2 separate regions of the Homo sapiens genome follow, and region 2 is linked to region 1. Evidence: fine-mapped expression QTL. Tissue or cell type: whole blood. Region 1 holds a variant in brackets; the other region holds the start of a gene. All regions are shown on one strand. Distances are from middle to middle.

What was found. PIP is the estimated chance that this variant, and not a neighbour inherited with it, causes the effect.
Region 2: it holds the start of PRP4K, and the variant in region 1 is fine-mapped to the expression of PRP4K in whole blood (TOPMed, PIP 0.92).

Annotation. Positions count from the first base shown.
Region 1 is chr6:4,060,515-4,068,698 of GRCh38, reverse strand. PRP4K (pre-mRNA processing factor kinase PRP4K) reads right to left here. Exons shown (of 15, transcript NM_003913.5): 15 at 3,716-8,184. The coding sequence ends at 8,083. It overlaps FAM217A (family with sequence similarity 217 member A), which reads left to right. Exons shown (of 7, transcript NM_173563.3): 7 at 1-332. The coding sequence ends at 3. Among named protein-coding and RNA genes, the nearest start is that of FAM217A, 15 kb to the left of the region's middle. The variant T/C (reference allele first, on the strand shown) is at 3,987.
Region 2 is chr6:4,017,631-4,025,814 of GRCh38, reverse strand. It overlaps PRP4K (pre-mRNA processing factor kinase PRP4K), which reads right to left and starts at 4,515. Exons shown (of 15, transcript NM_003913.5): 1 at 4,349-4,515. The coding sequence starts at 4,389. LOC124901245 (a long non-coding RNA gene) reads left to right here and starts at 4,648. Exons shown (of 2, transcript XR_007059415.1): 1 at 4,648-6,995. RefSeq lists enhancers at 3,273-3,332, 4,375-4,684, 7,214-7,263.

The sequences.
Region 1 (8,184 bases):
TAACTCTTTTCTTTCATACATCTCAATGTGAACACATCTACTCTAAGAAGCCCAACTAAGATATGGTTAATTATTCCAAGACACAGGTACTATTAACAGTCCCCCAAAATCACCAAACAGTTGCTTGATGTGATATGGAGTAGAACTTGTGAAAAGCACTGCTGAGATGTCTATATATAAACCCACAGGCTTCTATACTGACATATTTCACAATCTTTTGCATGTTGTGTTTCAAGTAAATGGTTCACTTGGTAGACTATTCTATTCAAAAGGCTACTCTTTTTTCAGTGATTGTTTTCCAGTATAATTCCATCAATAAATGGTATAATTGACTTATTGCAGCTGTAGTTCTTGTCATATAGTCATAAGAGTTGATTTTTTAAAAAGTCTTTCTCACTCTGGTATCATTTTTTTTTTCCTGTGCCCTCATCTCCACAGATCTATCATTTTGACCTATCCTTTGGGCATTTACTTGGCCCTTAAAAGCTAAAGAAGTTGTTGTTCTGTTAATGTACAAGATCCTCTAGATCCTCCTAGCTCCTCCCAAATCCTTAGAAATTTTCTGTCCCTGGCCTTTCTTTGTCATTTACATGAAAGATAGTTCTCTTTGGGGCCCAACTACAGGTTTAGGCTTGAAATAACCCTCTTCCACTCAGATCCAGTATTTTCTAAATGTTGAAGGAAAAATTGAGTAAGATCATTGTCCACAGAGCAGCCAAAATGTCATGTTACTAGAGTTTTTTCCAAGGCTCTGCACTGCTGGAAGTCTTAAGGCTGGTTAGTTGAAATTCATTCAGCCAACACATAACTCATTAACTAGCGAAAAAGGAAAACTATGTGACTGACAAACTTTACTGCCCCTAAGAATCAAGGAAACAAATAGAGTCCTAGCTTCTATTGCAGGCCCTCTGAAACACAATCTTTGGAATTGGGACCCATGGACACACATTATAAACAAATATTCCAGGTGATTTTAATGCAGGTGGTTCTTGGATCACACTTTGAAAGATGTAAAGGAAAGGATTGATGTAACATACATAAATTAGAGGTTCAGATATTTTGGAATATACTGTGTTTGGGTTTTAAGTGGATGGTTGGTGAATTCAAATTAATTTTTCTAAAAATTAAAAAAATACACAATTAAAACTTCAACCATTATCCAAAGGTACCAAATGAAAAGTAAGGTGGCTGTGCGTGGTGGCTCACACCTGTAATCCCAGCACTTTGGGAAGCTGAGGTGGGTGGATCACGAGGTCAGGAGTTCAAGACCAGCCTGACCAAGATAGTGAAACCCTGTCTCTACTAAAAATACAAAAATTAGCTGGGCGTGGTGGTGGGTGCCTGTAATCCCAGCTACTCTGGAGGCTGAGACAGAGAACTGCTTGAACCCGGGAGGTGGAGGTTGCAGTGAGCCGACATTGCCCATAGCCTGGGCAACAGAGCAAAACTCCATCTCAAAAAAAAAAAAAAAAAAAAAGCCGTTCCCCCCGTAACCCCACACACAAAGACAGCCACTAAATGTTTGGGTGTCATCCCTGCAAATGAGATGGAATATTGGAATATTTGAGTTAGGGATGAGTGAATTAATGAATAATTCAAATAAATGCAGAAGAGAACAACTGTAGCTTTTCCAGCTTTAGTAGCTTAAGGTTCAAAGTTTTCTTAGAGGCAGGGGTCAGAGAGCATGCTTAGTTTTTAATTTCAAAGAATTTTCTAGAATCATATAGCACAGCAATAGAAAACAAACGTAATTGGTTAGTCTTAGCATAATGAAATTTTACCTGTATCCCATACAATCAGTCCCGTTAATCCAAAGTGGTATAATATCCCTCTCATAAAAGTATATGCCAAAGTGGACTTACATTTTCACTAAATTCCAACTTGCAGTGACCTGTTTCCCACAAACCATCTTTAATTCTTACAATTCCTTCTAACTTGTGTACTGAACCTTTTTGACAAGCCCTCTGTGTCCATTCTCGTTTCTACTTTCCTTAGCTACCTGGATTCTTTCCCTCACCCCCAGGGTTATGATGTAATTTTTATTTGTAAAACCTTCAGAAAGGACATGCCTGTTTGCTCACCACTGTATCCTGGCAGGTAGTACTTGACTACCAACTGTCATGCATGACATAGTGGTTACAAGCACTAGCTCTGTCGCTAGGCTGTCTAAATTCGAACCCAGACTCCTGCCACTGAACACCTAACACCTTTAGCAGTTTCCTTAACCTCTCTTGCTTCACTTTTCTGATGGGTAAAGTGGGTAGACTGTCTTTATCTCATATAATCATGTGCGGGTTAAATGACCAGCAGCAAAAGTGCCTGGCATATACAAGTATTCACAAAATACATTAGGGAAGTAAGAATGACACAGGAGGGCAAACCATCTCGAGAATGGACCTCCTTAGCACTAGTTAGGTGCAGAACAATAATTCCTAACAATGTCCTGTTTCTTGCAGGGCATGTGCCAAGGCACAGGGAAATGGTACGGTGCAACAGACACAAACCCTTTCAGTAAGACTAGGCGTGGGAATGGGCATGGGAGATGGGACTGAGACCAGAAGTGGCAAGTTTTGTAGGGATTAGAGATGTATCATCTCAAATTTATCCTGTAGACTGACAGGGGAAAAAGACCTGGTTCAAACAGGTGAAGTGGGACCCACTTGTCTACATATGTAGTGGACAAAACTGGAGACATGAATACAAAATATTTGGCTATTTTTCATACTTGGTGGAAGTCAACGCCCACCATTATCTTTAAATAAGAAAACATTTGGCAGTTTATAACACACATATAAATTCTGTTCGGGAAAACCTAGTTTGCTGATAAATACCCATGTTTAGCTCTCCAGTCATTGATGGTCCTCAGCTCACTGGATCTTCATGAGGTTGAATCTTTCTAATTAGAGAAAGTATGTGTGGCCGGGTGTGGTGGCTCATGCCTGTAATCCCAGCACTTTGGGAGGCTCAGGCGTGTGGATCACCTGAGGTCAGGAGGCGGAGGCGAGCTGTGATCGTGCCACTGCACTCCAGCCTGGCGATAGACGGCGAGTCCGTCTCAAAAAAAAGAAAAAAAGAAAGAAAAAAAGTATGTGTGAAAGGTCCTTAACCAATACATCCTGCATACTATTTTCCCTAAAATGTACCAGATACAATAACCTCATAGCCACTTTAGATAGTTATGCAGTCTAACAAAATTATAACTGGGGCCTTTACATGAAGACTATCCAGAGCCAGTGCCATTTGACCATTTCTCAGCCCAGAATCAAGCATACTAGCTTCTACCTGCCACTCTGCGGTGGTTAGCTCCAATGGGGTGGGTGGGTGCATTCTACAAGGCCATTCTGCCTGCCTTATCTGCTTTGCATGCACTAAGATTCACAAACTACACTGTGAATCTATTTTACTCACTGTTTTGAAAAGCCAAAAACAGTTCCTTAAAAGAAGAAAATAAAGAGTGGGTATACTGAGGATAAGAGCCCAAGATTTGTCAAGCTATCATGTGAGCAATGAACCAATTTATTTTTATCATTATAAAAACAGGAGTTGGCTCATTACTTATCTGTTTCCTTTACTAGGAAAACCAAAGCAGAAATGTATGTAACAGGAACACGAATATAATACACTCTTTGGTGTTGTGCACCTAATGCTTTGAAAATGTTTTGATGTTTGTGAGGAAAATCTGAACTCAACCAAAGAAAAAAACCAGGAGACAATATGATAATAAGAGGCATATTTTATTCAGTTTCCCAGTAAGTCAATTAGAAACATGCACTGCTAAAATGCAAGTTACAATTCAAATGGTACCATAAATAATTAGAGTACACACTGAGCATTTTCAGAAATCAGCTTCCATATCTTGATCACTAAATGGAAAGGTTCTTCAGAACAGTCCCTTACCCTATATACAGAAGGAGAAGAAAAATTAAGGATGCCATAATGACATCTATCAGAATAACTGGAAAACATTTTAATTTAGCATACATTAT[T/C]GACATGTAAAAAACACAAATGAATTTGTCGTGAACATTTCTATAAGGAAGACATTCCATTAGGAGGAGAATGATAAAATTCATGTTGAATATATGCTGGAACTAGGATACTATTAAGAAAGAAACACATTTATGAAGCCCAATTGGTAAAGATGTCATTATAACTAAATGAGGAAAATTACATATTTGAATATATGGCTTTCTTTCCTATCTTCAACATTCAAAAGGGCCATTTCTTAACTACTTCGCCTAAATTTTATCATGTTGATTCCTTTGTTTCATCTCAGAGATTTTATTTCTACCCCATATAGCTAGAGTTCTGCTTACAAATGATAAAATACAGGTAAAGCATAAGAGGAATGCAAATATGGAACAAAACTGAGAACATTACATTTTACTTACTCTACCACATACCATAAAACAGTACATAAATATTTCATTTTGAAAAAAAAGTCCTGAGTACTTATTTTTGTTAGGAATAAAGTGGTACTTAATAATGGCAAAACATTTCTATTATTTTAAAACAAAATTTTGAGACAGTAGAGTGAAATGAGATAGCTATCAGGGAATGAAGAAAACAGGATGTATTAATAACGATTTAAGGGTGAATATAAGATGCTCCCCCTGCTCAAAACCTCGAAATTCCAACCTCATTTCTGATGATCTTCAAGAATAAAGTCTATCCAGAGTGTAAAAAATGTCTATGCTTTCCAGATCTCAACTATTCTCCCAACCCTAGAAAAAACTGTAACATCTTTGAGAGCCGTACCTAACACTTCTATGAGCCCTCAAGTCTGACAATCACTTGATATCACTTTTGCCATAAAGTATAATAAAAGCAAAAAATTCACGGCAGATAGCATTTGAAAAGCATACAGCTACTCTAAAAGAGGAATGCACATTTATTCAGGAGCATTCACTAAATAAATTCAATCTAGTAGGTCTTGCAGAGTTCCAAATTGCACCTCAGCAAAATTACAGAGTGTAGGAAAATCATGTAACGTACATAAGACAGTTGATAGGGTTCCTTTCAAATAGGTAGTCTAGATATGCTAAATTGGGGAGTATAAAAAACCCAGAGTATCTTTTTCATTTCCCTTAAAAAAAATGGCTCTGAATATTTTGTCTACTTTAAGACTGGAACACTGGTTAATAACGAGGTTTCTACAGGGTAAGTTGGGGAACAGATACTAAAGGAGTTGAACAGTATTCTTAATATTCCAGTTTGTATTCTTTTGCATCTGCCTAAAGCTGAAGACTACTTTCAGATATATGCTATTCTGGTGGTTGCTGTTTTTCTAAGAATCCTTAACATCCAATTTTGACAACCATGTGTTATGTGGAATCTCAGCATCCAGCAGCCTTTTATATTACTAAAGTTGACCACTATTTTTATTTTAGGGGAGGAGAAACTGGGGGAGGGGAGAGGCAGGAAGTATGATAAAACAAGCACTTTACAGACGCACTCCACAACAGCACTAATTCTAAATACCAAACACCAATAAAACCCAAATCATAATGCTGAAAACTAAAAAATTAGACAAAAAATAAATGAAGGATTGTTTTTTAATAAATCTTTTATAGGACAGAAACCTTAGCTCATGTCTTCTGGTTGTCATCATCTTCCACTGAGCTGCACCTAAAACACAAAGAACAAGTAACAAGCAACTTTGTTTTTTAAAGAACAGGTAACAGTTTTGAAGGTATAAGATGAACTGTTTCTAGTGGAACTTACTTAAAAAATTACATAAAATGAAGCCATAAACATCACCAGAAGCATCAAATTGTCAACTACTTTGGGTGAAAATAACTACAAGAGACTTGAATATGCAGCATATTATCACCGAAATAAATAATGGTGGGAAAATCACTACCCATTTCATTAAGGTAGAATAGCTGCACCTGTGACGCCTTAATTAAAAGGCTTCACTCTACCTGAAGATGAAAATCACCTTGTATTTATTTTAGTAAGTCTAAACCGTGAAGAGACGGGGTGTAGGTTCAGAGGTGGCTTATTATATCATCTATCACCTTCCTGGCTGTAGTTCATTTCATGTCTTTAAATGGAGCAAAACCCACCAGAAGAATCAATGCTGCTATTCTGATTTTCCATTCTTGAATGCACCAAAATGTGCATGCTTGTTGTAATTAGGTGCCTGGGTGAATAAAAAAATCCCATTTACAATTTAAAAATATTATTTAAACCCCTAAAATCTGATTATTTTCCATATTCCTCAGGGAGACAAGCATTAATTTTACCCCCCAAACAGCAAAGATTACATATATTTCTGAAAAATTCTCTTCTACCATGTTAATAATACAAATTCCTTTGTGTTGCAAAACCAAGCTGATTTAAACGATTTTGTCTTAAATTGTTGCTAAATGTTTATCTACACATGCTGTCAGAAATAACCTTGTTAAGAAGGTGAAGCTGGTGTCTCAGCAAATCAGACCCCTTGGAGAAGGCGTCGAATGGCCTGTGCCCCGTTTTCCTTTTTCTCTTTCCGCACCATCAAAAGGAAAAGTGAGAAAATAGCAGAAACATTAGTTAAATCCTGAATTATACCCCATAACCTACAGGAATAATCTCACTACACTGAAAGCTGACAATATTTGTAGGATTTTTTGAAATAATTAGGATCCTAATTATTAATAAACTGGTAATTTTGGCTAGGTTTACATCTTTAACTAATAATACTTTCAATTAAAAACTTTCAGGAAAAAAACAAAAGGTTGCTTTTAACTATTTATGGTTTACCTGACTTACCAGCACTGAAGACAAAAACTTTTAAAAATGGCTACAAATGCCTTGTTCACAAAAGACTTTATTATCTAGTGATGCATACTGAGAACATACAGAAATCTGCATGGTCCACTTCACATGCAGTAGAACAATCTTCACTTTACAATAAGTGAGTGTCAACTGTTTTATGCAATAGACAACACTTTAAAGTCACATTCTTAAAGAAAAGCTTCATTTACAAAAGAAATAAAAGGTAAAGAAGCAATTACCGCTTTTAAAAAGCAGCTGCTTTGTTCAAGAGTGGAAGGTTTATGCCTGTATTGAAAGACAACATGATCACAAATAATGAAAACAATGAACAAATGAAAAACACTTTTACCATAAAGCAGTACACTTTCAAAATGACATACAAATAGTTAAAAATTTCATTACGTTGTCTAGCCTTTAAATATGAGGACTTTCAGAATTAGGCCTCAACATTTGTAATTAGTAAATGAAAACTACGCATCGTTTCTATGTCACTAGGAACTATATTTAACAAAATGTATATAAAGTCTATAGCAAGTTGATTTAAAAAAAGTAAAGTTAATAAGAAACAGTACACTGAAGGCGCTCTATCCATCAAGCGCGTTCTCTTCCAATTTTAAATGTGATGAACAAACAGAAATTGTAACTATGCCACAGTTGCAATGCCAAAAAATAAAACAAGATCAGTTATCACACATGCAGGGAATTCTGCCACAAAGCTAACATCCCTCATTTGTCAGTTGTTCCAATAAAATAACATCTTAAAACACCAGAGATGTTGATGGTTTAGCTTACCTTCAGTGTACTGAATGCTGCACACAACCTGCTTTAAAAGGAGACCATCCCTGCAGGCAGGCTCAAGAAGGAACAGACCCCTTTCGGCACTGACTACACCAAGGGCATGCTGCTGTGGCCTGCACACACACACCTAGGAAAACGTGAATATAAACAGCATTTATGCTGGCCATTTTATCTCAAGACCAAAATGAAGCCAAGTCTGCTAAGAACAAATCAACCACCCAATATTACTACTCATTTCATAACAGATGCTTTTGTCTTTATGTGAACTGCAACCATATACATTAGCACTGTAATTTTGTGCAGTCTTGGCAATTTAAAACAGTCTACAGTGAAATTTCACGTAAGACACAAAACAGATTAACTAACATCTCTAAAAGAAATATCACCCTTGGTGTTAATTCAAATATATCATGCTTCCTCAAATTTGCTGGAGAAATATTTATAAGTTTATATACATTAATAAACTGCTGTGAAATTTCTTCAGTCTTTGTATTTACTCAAACCCTTGGAGTTTCTTCATCTTGTTTAAATTTTTTCCTGGATGAAGGCGTGCTGTAGGGCCTGGTTGATGCTAATTCGTTTAGCTGGGTCCAACATCAGAATCTGGTCCAACAAGTCCTTTAGCTG
Region 2 (8,184 bases), 43 kb after region 1:
GGAAAATCAGTTTTTTGAACCTTATCTTTTCTAATGCTAACAATTTACAAAAATCTTAGGAGTTTCATTAAAAATTGTTAAGAGTCTACCCATAGAGGAATCAACTTCTATCAACAGAAAATCTAGCTCCTAGAGCTTCTGGGAATTAGAAATACATCATGATGACCAGTATCACTGTAGAAGGGTCATTCCCATGAGTGACTAGTTTCCATTGTAAATTAATGAGTATTATCTCAAGAAATAATGAGTAGGTTCCTGCTAAAAATGCTACCAGCTCGGTACAATCAGGTTAACCTTAATTATAGCATTTTCTTATACAGGGGCTAGGCATACAATGGATCTTTACCAGTCTCAACTCATCTCTCAATGCAAATGTCACAAATCACAACTAAAGTCTGACCAGGTCAATCTGGAAAACTTGAAACATTGAGTCAATGGCATAATGTATTACATACAATGGGCCTGTGCTAAAACAGCTAAATTAGCTTTATCATCAACGACTTTCTTCTAAAGCTCAAGAAAAAGGTTTCTTGTTAAGAAACCTAACGGCCCTCTTGGATAGTTTATACTGACAATAAATATAGGCCATATATATTTCATTTATATAAATTTACGCTTTAACATTAACATTTTACAATTTAATATCCCACATTTAGCCAAGTGGATGTGTATACCAACCTGGTCACAACAGGTTTATCACAAAATATTTATTGAGAACCTATTGAATATTGGATAACATTCTTCAGATCACATTATTTGGAAGCAAAGGTGAATGAGAAGTGCAGACAACATGGGGTTGCTTAACAGTATTTATTTGTTTTGTTAAGTTTTACCTTTTAAAAAACCCATGTCTTGAGGCACCCAGCACAATGAATGAAAATCGTGGAACGCCTTTAAAATAACATAGTCACGGTCAGGTGCAGTGGCTTATGACTGTAATCCCAACACTTTTGGGAGGCTGAGACTGGCGGATCACCTGAGGTCAGGAGTTTGAGACCAGCCTGGCCAATATGGTGAAATCCCGTCTCTACTAAAAATACAAAAATTAGCACGGCATGGTGGTGCGTGCCTGTAATCCCAGCTACTCGGGAGACAGAGACAGGAGAATCACTTGAACCTGGGACGCAGAGGTTGCAGTGAGCCAAGATTGCGCTACTGCACTCCAGCCTGGGCAACAGAGACTCGGTCTCAAAAAAATAAAATAGTCACCAATCACCAACCACCAGTGTTATTTTAACTTCTTCTTTCACATTTTTTTCCAAACAATAGTCTTAGTGAATTTATTTGGTAGGCATTCAAAATATACAGAGACACAGAGAACTGACTGATTTAAATTTGTGTATGAATAAAGCCGTTTTTAAGCTAGACAATTCTTTAAATTTTTTTTTAGTGGCGAGCAAAGTGAACGCCACTGCTATTTACCAGGAAAGTAATTAAGCCTATTTCTCTGACAAGTTAAAATGTATATATCTTTTAAGAAACTGGGTCTCACTATGTTGCCTGGGCTAGATTCAAACTCCTAGGCTCAAATGATCCTCCTGCCTCAGACTCCCTAGTACCTGCAGCACTTGAGCCCAGTAGTTCAAGAACAGCCTGGGCAACATGGGAAGACTCTGCCTCTACAAAAATACTTAAAAATTAGCTAGGCATGGCTCGGCACGGTAGCTCACGCCTGTAATCCCAGAACTTTGGGAGTCTGAGGTGGGCGGATCACGAGGTCAGGAGATCGGGACCATCCTGGCCAACAAGGTGAAACCCCATCTCTACTAAAAATACAAAAATTAGCTGGGCGTGGTGGTACGTGCCTGTAATCCCAGCTACTCGGGAGGCTGAGGCAGGAGAACTGCTTGAACCAGGGAGTCCAAGGTTTCAGTGAGCCAAGATCGCACCACTGCAATCTAGCCTGGAGAGAAAGTGAAACTCCGTCTCAAAAAAAAAAAAATTAGCTGGGCATGGTGTCATATGCCTGTGGTCCCAGCTACTCCGGAGGCTGGAGTAGGAGGATCACTTGAGGCTGAGGCTACAATGAGCCATGATAATGTTACTGTACTCCAGTCTGGGTGACAAGAGCTCGTGTTTCAAAAATAAATAAAATGAACAAAAAGAATTAATGTAGCTATAAAAATCAGAATGGGTCCAAAAGACCAACTAGTCTTAAAACATTCCCTCTGGTCTCTGCTTTGCCAAATCAGGTTTGAGAAATTAGTTCTCAATAAATTAGACATGTCACATCAAAAAATGTATCTTTCTGGGACAGTGGAAAAAAACAAAAATAATTTCATACTTGACAAGCAATTTAAAAAGAAGCCACATTGTATAGTGGGAGGCCAGACAGTACAATAGTTAGCAGCAGGGCTTTAGAACCAGACTGCCTGAGTTTAAATGGGTGTGCCACTGAGTGTGACCTTGAGCAAGTTACTTAATTTCTCTGTGTTTCAGTTTCATCATCTCTAAAATAAGGAAAATAAACGTATCTACCTCCATAGGGTTGTTAAAAGAATTAAAGCCTTCAGGGAGCTTAAAAGCTGCTTCTTATATTTATTCTTTCTAAATTTTCTGTTTTGAATAGATTCTATATAACTGTAAACTACTCAGTGTTCTCTAAAGAACTGTTGTAGACACTATATTCAGGGACTCACTATGAGCACCAGGCATAGTTTGCTTTCATACCAAATGGTTATCTTCTTTGTTAAATACTTTCAAACTACTGAAAGTGAGACATATACAGACCAAATATTCCATTTACACCAAGTGCTCTGTGGGGAAGGGAAGGGAAATTAAAGATTATCTCTGTTACTCATACAGCAGAGGCCTAAATATGTATTTTTGAAATTATTAAGTCTAATATTATTTGAATACAGTATGTGAATAAACTATGGCTGACCCACTCCTGGAAATGAATCTGAAACATCCCTAAAATCAAATAAATGGACATAATATTACAGAACTTTTCAGATTAGTAGAAAATGTAACCACATAGCATGAGATCTGCACGGTACTGGCATAAACACTGTAATTGTGCCACACAATGAACTTGGTGAGAAACAGTAAGAGGTTAAAGCTAATTTAAAACTTCAGAATCCATTTGTTCTCTGCTAAGTCAAATTGTAAAAATAATACAGCAGTTTTGAAAAGCCCTTAATTAAAAATTCCGTTTCTCTGCCTAGCTGAGTAATGCAGATGATTGAGGAGCCCAAAACTGGATGCACAGCAATTAAGTGTCAGGTTGTCTGGTGGCAAAGATTTCTTCTATCGCTCAGTCACAAGTTGCTGGGAGACTATACCTCTTTCTAAGATGGCTGGAAACAGATCAGACAGTGCAGATGCAAAAAAAAACAAAAAACAAAACAAAAAAAAAAAACGGTCGCTATAGGAACATTGCCGTAAAATCCATTCTCTCTGTTAAGGTTCTTGTTTGAGTTTTCCTAACATAGACATGAACAGCAAAATACTGCTTTAAGTTAACCAATGGTTAACCTTTGCAGCATACACTCGTATTTTTTTTTTTTTCATTTTTCATTTGGCCGCATGGATTCTTAATGTTAGCTTAATTATAGACATAAAGTGGTTTGGCAGTAGCTAGCAATTCCCACTACTCCTTCCACTCGTCCTCCTAAAGAAGGGTTATAAACTCAGGCAAAAAAAAAAAAAAAAAAAAAATGCCAGGCCTCAAAACCAAAGACTCTATCTTACTTTGCCTCAAGTTTGCAAGTTGGTAAAAAAGCTGCCGGTAGGCACTCAAAACAAAACAAAACAATACTGGGTGACTGCTGGACTAAAGAGTACAAGGTGACGAGATCAAGTATCCCGCTAGCCACAGACTAGCTCTGGGATGGCCAGAGAGTGTGACCCCAGCACCTCCGCTCTCTGCTTTCAGGTCCTAAACTGACACCAGTAAAAGGACGACTGGGGGTACCGCATGAGGAAGAAAAGACTTAGGGCTTGGCCCGCCTGCTGCCACTGACCCTCGTGTCCCCAACACAGATGCCGCTAAGAGCTGCGGCCAGGGAGCTCAGATGGGTCCCCAAAAGAGGCATAGGAAAGCGCGACCTCACTGCCGCGGCAGCCGCCACGCGCACCGGACCTGTAGAGGCCGCTCGCGCCTACGCCTCCCGGGGCAACGACGCGCGGCAGGCCGCGGCCGCCTTCACCCCAGCAGCCACGGCCTCTGGGAGAAGGAAGCTCGAAGGCCGCCTGCTCCCCATGCCTCCCACCCCACAACGAATCGCGCCGGAAAAAGCAAAGTTTGACTCTCGCCGTTAGGCCCGAACTTTCCCGCCACCCCGTGCAGCTCCCACTCGGCAGTCCCCGGGCTCCAGCTTCTGGCCCACTCACAGAGACTACTTACTCTGGCTGCTCCCGTAGCGACTGGGTCTCCGCGGCGGCCATCTTGAACTTCCTGACTCCTCGGCGGCGGTGGCGGCGGCTCCCGGACGGTGGAGGGTAGGGGAAGTGGAGGAAGAAGGAAAAGAGCTGCCGCGCATGTGCCGACCGTGTAGGGAAGAGCTGGGTTCTGAGTCCGCGCTAAGAATCCGGATATAAAACCCCACGTCCCGGGACTAGCGCAGGGCGTAGTGTCGCAGCTTCCGGGAGCATGGTGGGCGGTGCTGCTAAGGATTGAGGTCGAGTGTCAAGCTTGAGCTCTTCAGTCAATGCTAGAAATGGACGTTTAGTTATTGAATCCCGCTAACGAGGGGAGCCAACAAGAGAGGGATGTCGGCATCGGGTGTGCGGTTCCAAGAACTGATTGGCTGTGGAGATTAGAAGTTAGGTGAAAATTCTCTTAAACTCGGGCAAACGAATTGATGATTTTTCCCCTGGTCGGTGTTAGAGACACAGTAAATGCTTAACCATCTCGCTAGACAGCTCAACTGAAGTGGCATTAACTTCCCGGGAAAGTGTGTAGAAAGGCATTTTTAAATACTGTAAACTCGAACGTAAATATCTTTTAATGTGGAACTGTTACTACATTTAACACTGAACATCTTTTCAACTTTTACATAGTTCAAGGGTGACACGATTCAGTTCGTTATTTCCGTAATTGGAACGTGTAATGTTTTTTGGCCCAAGTTGCGTTATGTGATTTTGTTTTCTTCTATAACGACTCTACAGTAATGGGGTAGAATGGAATATTGTGGGGAAAACATTTACTGGCTCTTGGAGAACTCTCAAAACCAATTAGGTTCTTTAATTCCTCTTTAAAAAAATATTTCTCGCCTGGCGCTGTGGCTCACCCCTGTAATCCCAGCACCTTGGGAGGCCGAGGCGGGCGGATCACCTGAGGCCAGGATTTGGAGACCAGCCTGGCCAACATGGTGAAACCCCGTCTCTATTAAAAATACAAAAAATTAGCTGGGCGTGGTGGCGCTCGCCTATAATCCCAGCTACTCCGGAGGCTGAGGCAGGAGAATCGCTTGAACCCGAGAGGCGGAGTTTGCACTGAGATCACGCCACTGCACTCCAGCCTGGGCGACAGAGCAAGATTCCATCTCAAAAAAAAAAAAAAAATTATCCATACTTTGGAACCTGGAAGCAGCGTGACGATCACTTTCATTCTTGTAATCATCTGAGTTTGCCTTTGTCCTAGAAAATTGAGTTCGGAATCTCCAGACTCCATACATATCTCTTGATTTCCAGGGGAGAAGGGTTTTAAATGTTCTTACAAAATGTCTCTTGTTGCCTGAATTCCAAACGTTTTGAAATGTTAGGGCCGGGCGCGGTGGCTCACGCCTGCAATCCTCTAGCACTTTGGGAGGCCGAGGCGGGCGGATTGCCTGAACTCAAGAGTTCGAGTCCAGCCTGGCCAACATAGCGAAACTCCGTCTCTGCTAAAAATACAAAAAATTAGCCGGCGTGGTGGCGCCTGTAGTCTCAGCTACTCGGGAGGCTGAGGCAAGAGAATCGCTTGAACCCGGGAGGCCGAGATCGCGCCATTGCACTCCAGCCTGGGCAACAAAAGCAAAAACGCCGTCTCAAATAAATAAATGAAATAAACTTAGTAAACTATTTTTAAATAATGTTAAAATTAACGGTGTACGTAGTAGAACTGTGAGAGATCTCATCTTGGAAATAGAGTGATATACTTGAAGGCAAGAGATTGGGTCAGGTACTATTAACACGTTTTACACATGAACAAACCGACACTAAGAGGTAAGGTAATTTGCTTATGATTGAGTTCCCAAGTACAAAGCTGATTTTTGAACTAAAATCTGACTCGAAAATCTGCTCTTTTCTTATCAGGCTGCTTCCTACAAAAATATAACCTCGCTTAGCATCTGCTTGTTAAGCATCCACCCTCACAGCTCTTTGGCATTCAAATGTTTGTTGAGTAGGGGTAATAGAGCACTACGTTCGAATCAGAAAATGCCTTATTTTTCCTTGCTTGCAAGAGCCTATTATAAATAAATGCCTTGTTTTCGCTGTGTCTCTTTCTTGTTGTCGAGAGCTCAGGCTGGTCTTAATTTCTGCAACCATAGTATTATCTCCCAGGTCTCCTTCTGCCCTGTGTATTTTGCAGTTATGCTTTATGTGGAGATGAAGCATCCTAAGTGTGGAGAACGATATATGGGGCCCGAACAATAGGTGCTGAAGCCAGATTGTGTGACTAAAGTTGGTATTTGAACAAACCAAGTGTTTATTTTTTTAAAGAGCATGGTAAAAACTAAGTTTCAAAAATCGATGCTGGCAAAAATTTCCTTGAAAAAATTCTCACCAAGTTCACTTGCACGGTACTACCTGGGGAATGAAACACATTTGTCAAGGACACGCCCAAAACTATGTTGCTGTTGTAATTTTCAAAGACTGGGAACTGCGGCAGGGGGAGTTACAATTAAAGCAAACATCGGCGTATCAGTTTATTCATTCAGCAAACGTTTATGAAGCAACAAACGTATGCCCAATATTTCAGTCTTGCTGCTCTTCCTCCCCAAATTCAGGAACCTTTGCAACGGAAAGCGGCCTCGGGCAGGCGCCTTTTGAGCAGAGGAGTAAAACCGGTAAGTCAGCAGTGGAACCCGCCTCCCCGGAAATCCTTGGAGGGGGCGGGGCCCTGGGGAGCGCGCTCTTCCCAGCGGCAGCTGGGGAGGCGCATGCGTACTTGCGTCATCGTTGGGTAGCAGCGGGGAGGCGTGGGAGGATCTGAGGCCTGCGGTGGGCCTTGGTCCCTTCTCTCCCCGCCCCGAAGCCGCCTGCTCAACCTGAGGGCCACCGGCCTCTATCCGTCGGTGCCGATGCTCCTTGCTTCCCAGCCAGAGCGTCTCATCTCTGGGCCCGGAGCCCCAGGCTCGTTCTCCTCAGCCCCTGCCGGCGGCGGCGCTCTTGCAGCCATTCCTGTGAGGTCGTTTTTCGGAGCAGCCGGGCCGGCCGAGGAGTAAGTAGGCGCCAGAGTTCTAGCTCGGGCATCTGCCTCGGGGCCCTGTCGCCGCCGCGCCCCGGATCCTGCGTTGGTCCTGTCCGATAAAGCGGAGGTCGGCCCTGCTTGCTGACGAGACCGTAAAAACCACGGCGCTTGGCGCCCTGCCGCCGCCACACCACACCAAAGTGTACCTGCCCGAGGCTGGCTTCGGGCGCGAGCTTGCATTTGTGACTTTCTCTTACCGTCTTTGTTTGCTTCGTTTTAAGTATTACTTCCAGATAAGGGACACATTCTCGAAATACTTTGAAAACAGTTTTGAATTTTGTTCCTCCCGTTGAAACGGATTAAATTTGGACCTTTCAAGCTACACTGTGCAATCATCAATCTCAATAAGCTCTTAATAGGCTCATTCTTCCGTAGGCTACAAACAAAATAAAGATCATAACATCCTGCGGAGGAAGCCATTGGTCCATGTAGAGTCGCCAGATGTCAATTAAGAGTAGATCGCTTTTCAGAGAATACTTAACGACTCTGGTTTAGACCTAGACTTGGAACTTTGAGGTGTTTGGAACACTGGGCAGAATTTTCCTTTGTTACAAAACAAAGTTTATGAGAACGTAATTTGTTTTTGTTGTTTTTGTTGTTAGTATTGAAGCAATTTTGGTGCAAACCAAAGGATAACAAAGCAAAACAATGAAAATCACCCAGAGTTCCATTACCCACACTGAACCAACTTGAATATATTGGTTTATTTTGGCTTTTTTCCATATGAAATGTTAAATTTTCTTGTACTCACGTGTAGAATATGATAGTTTGCTCTTTCATGTAAC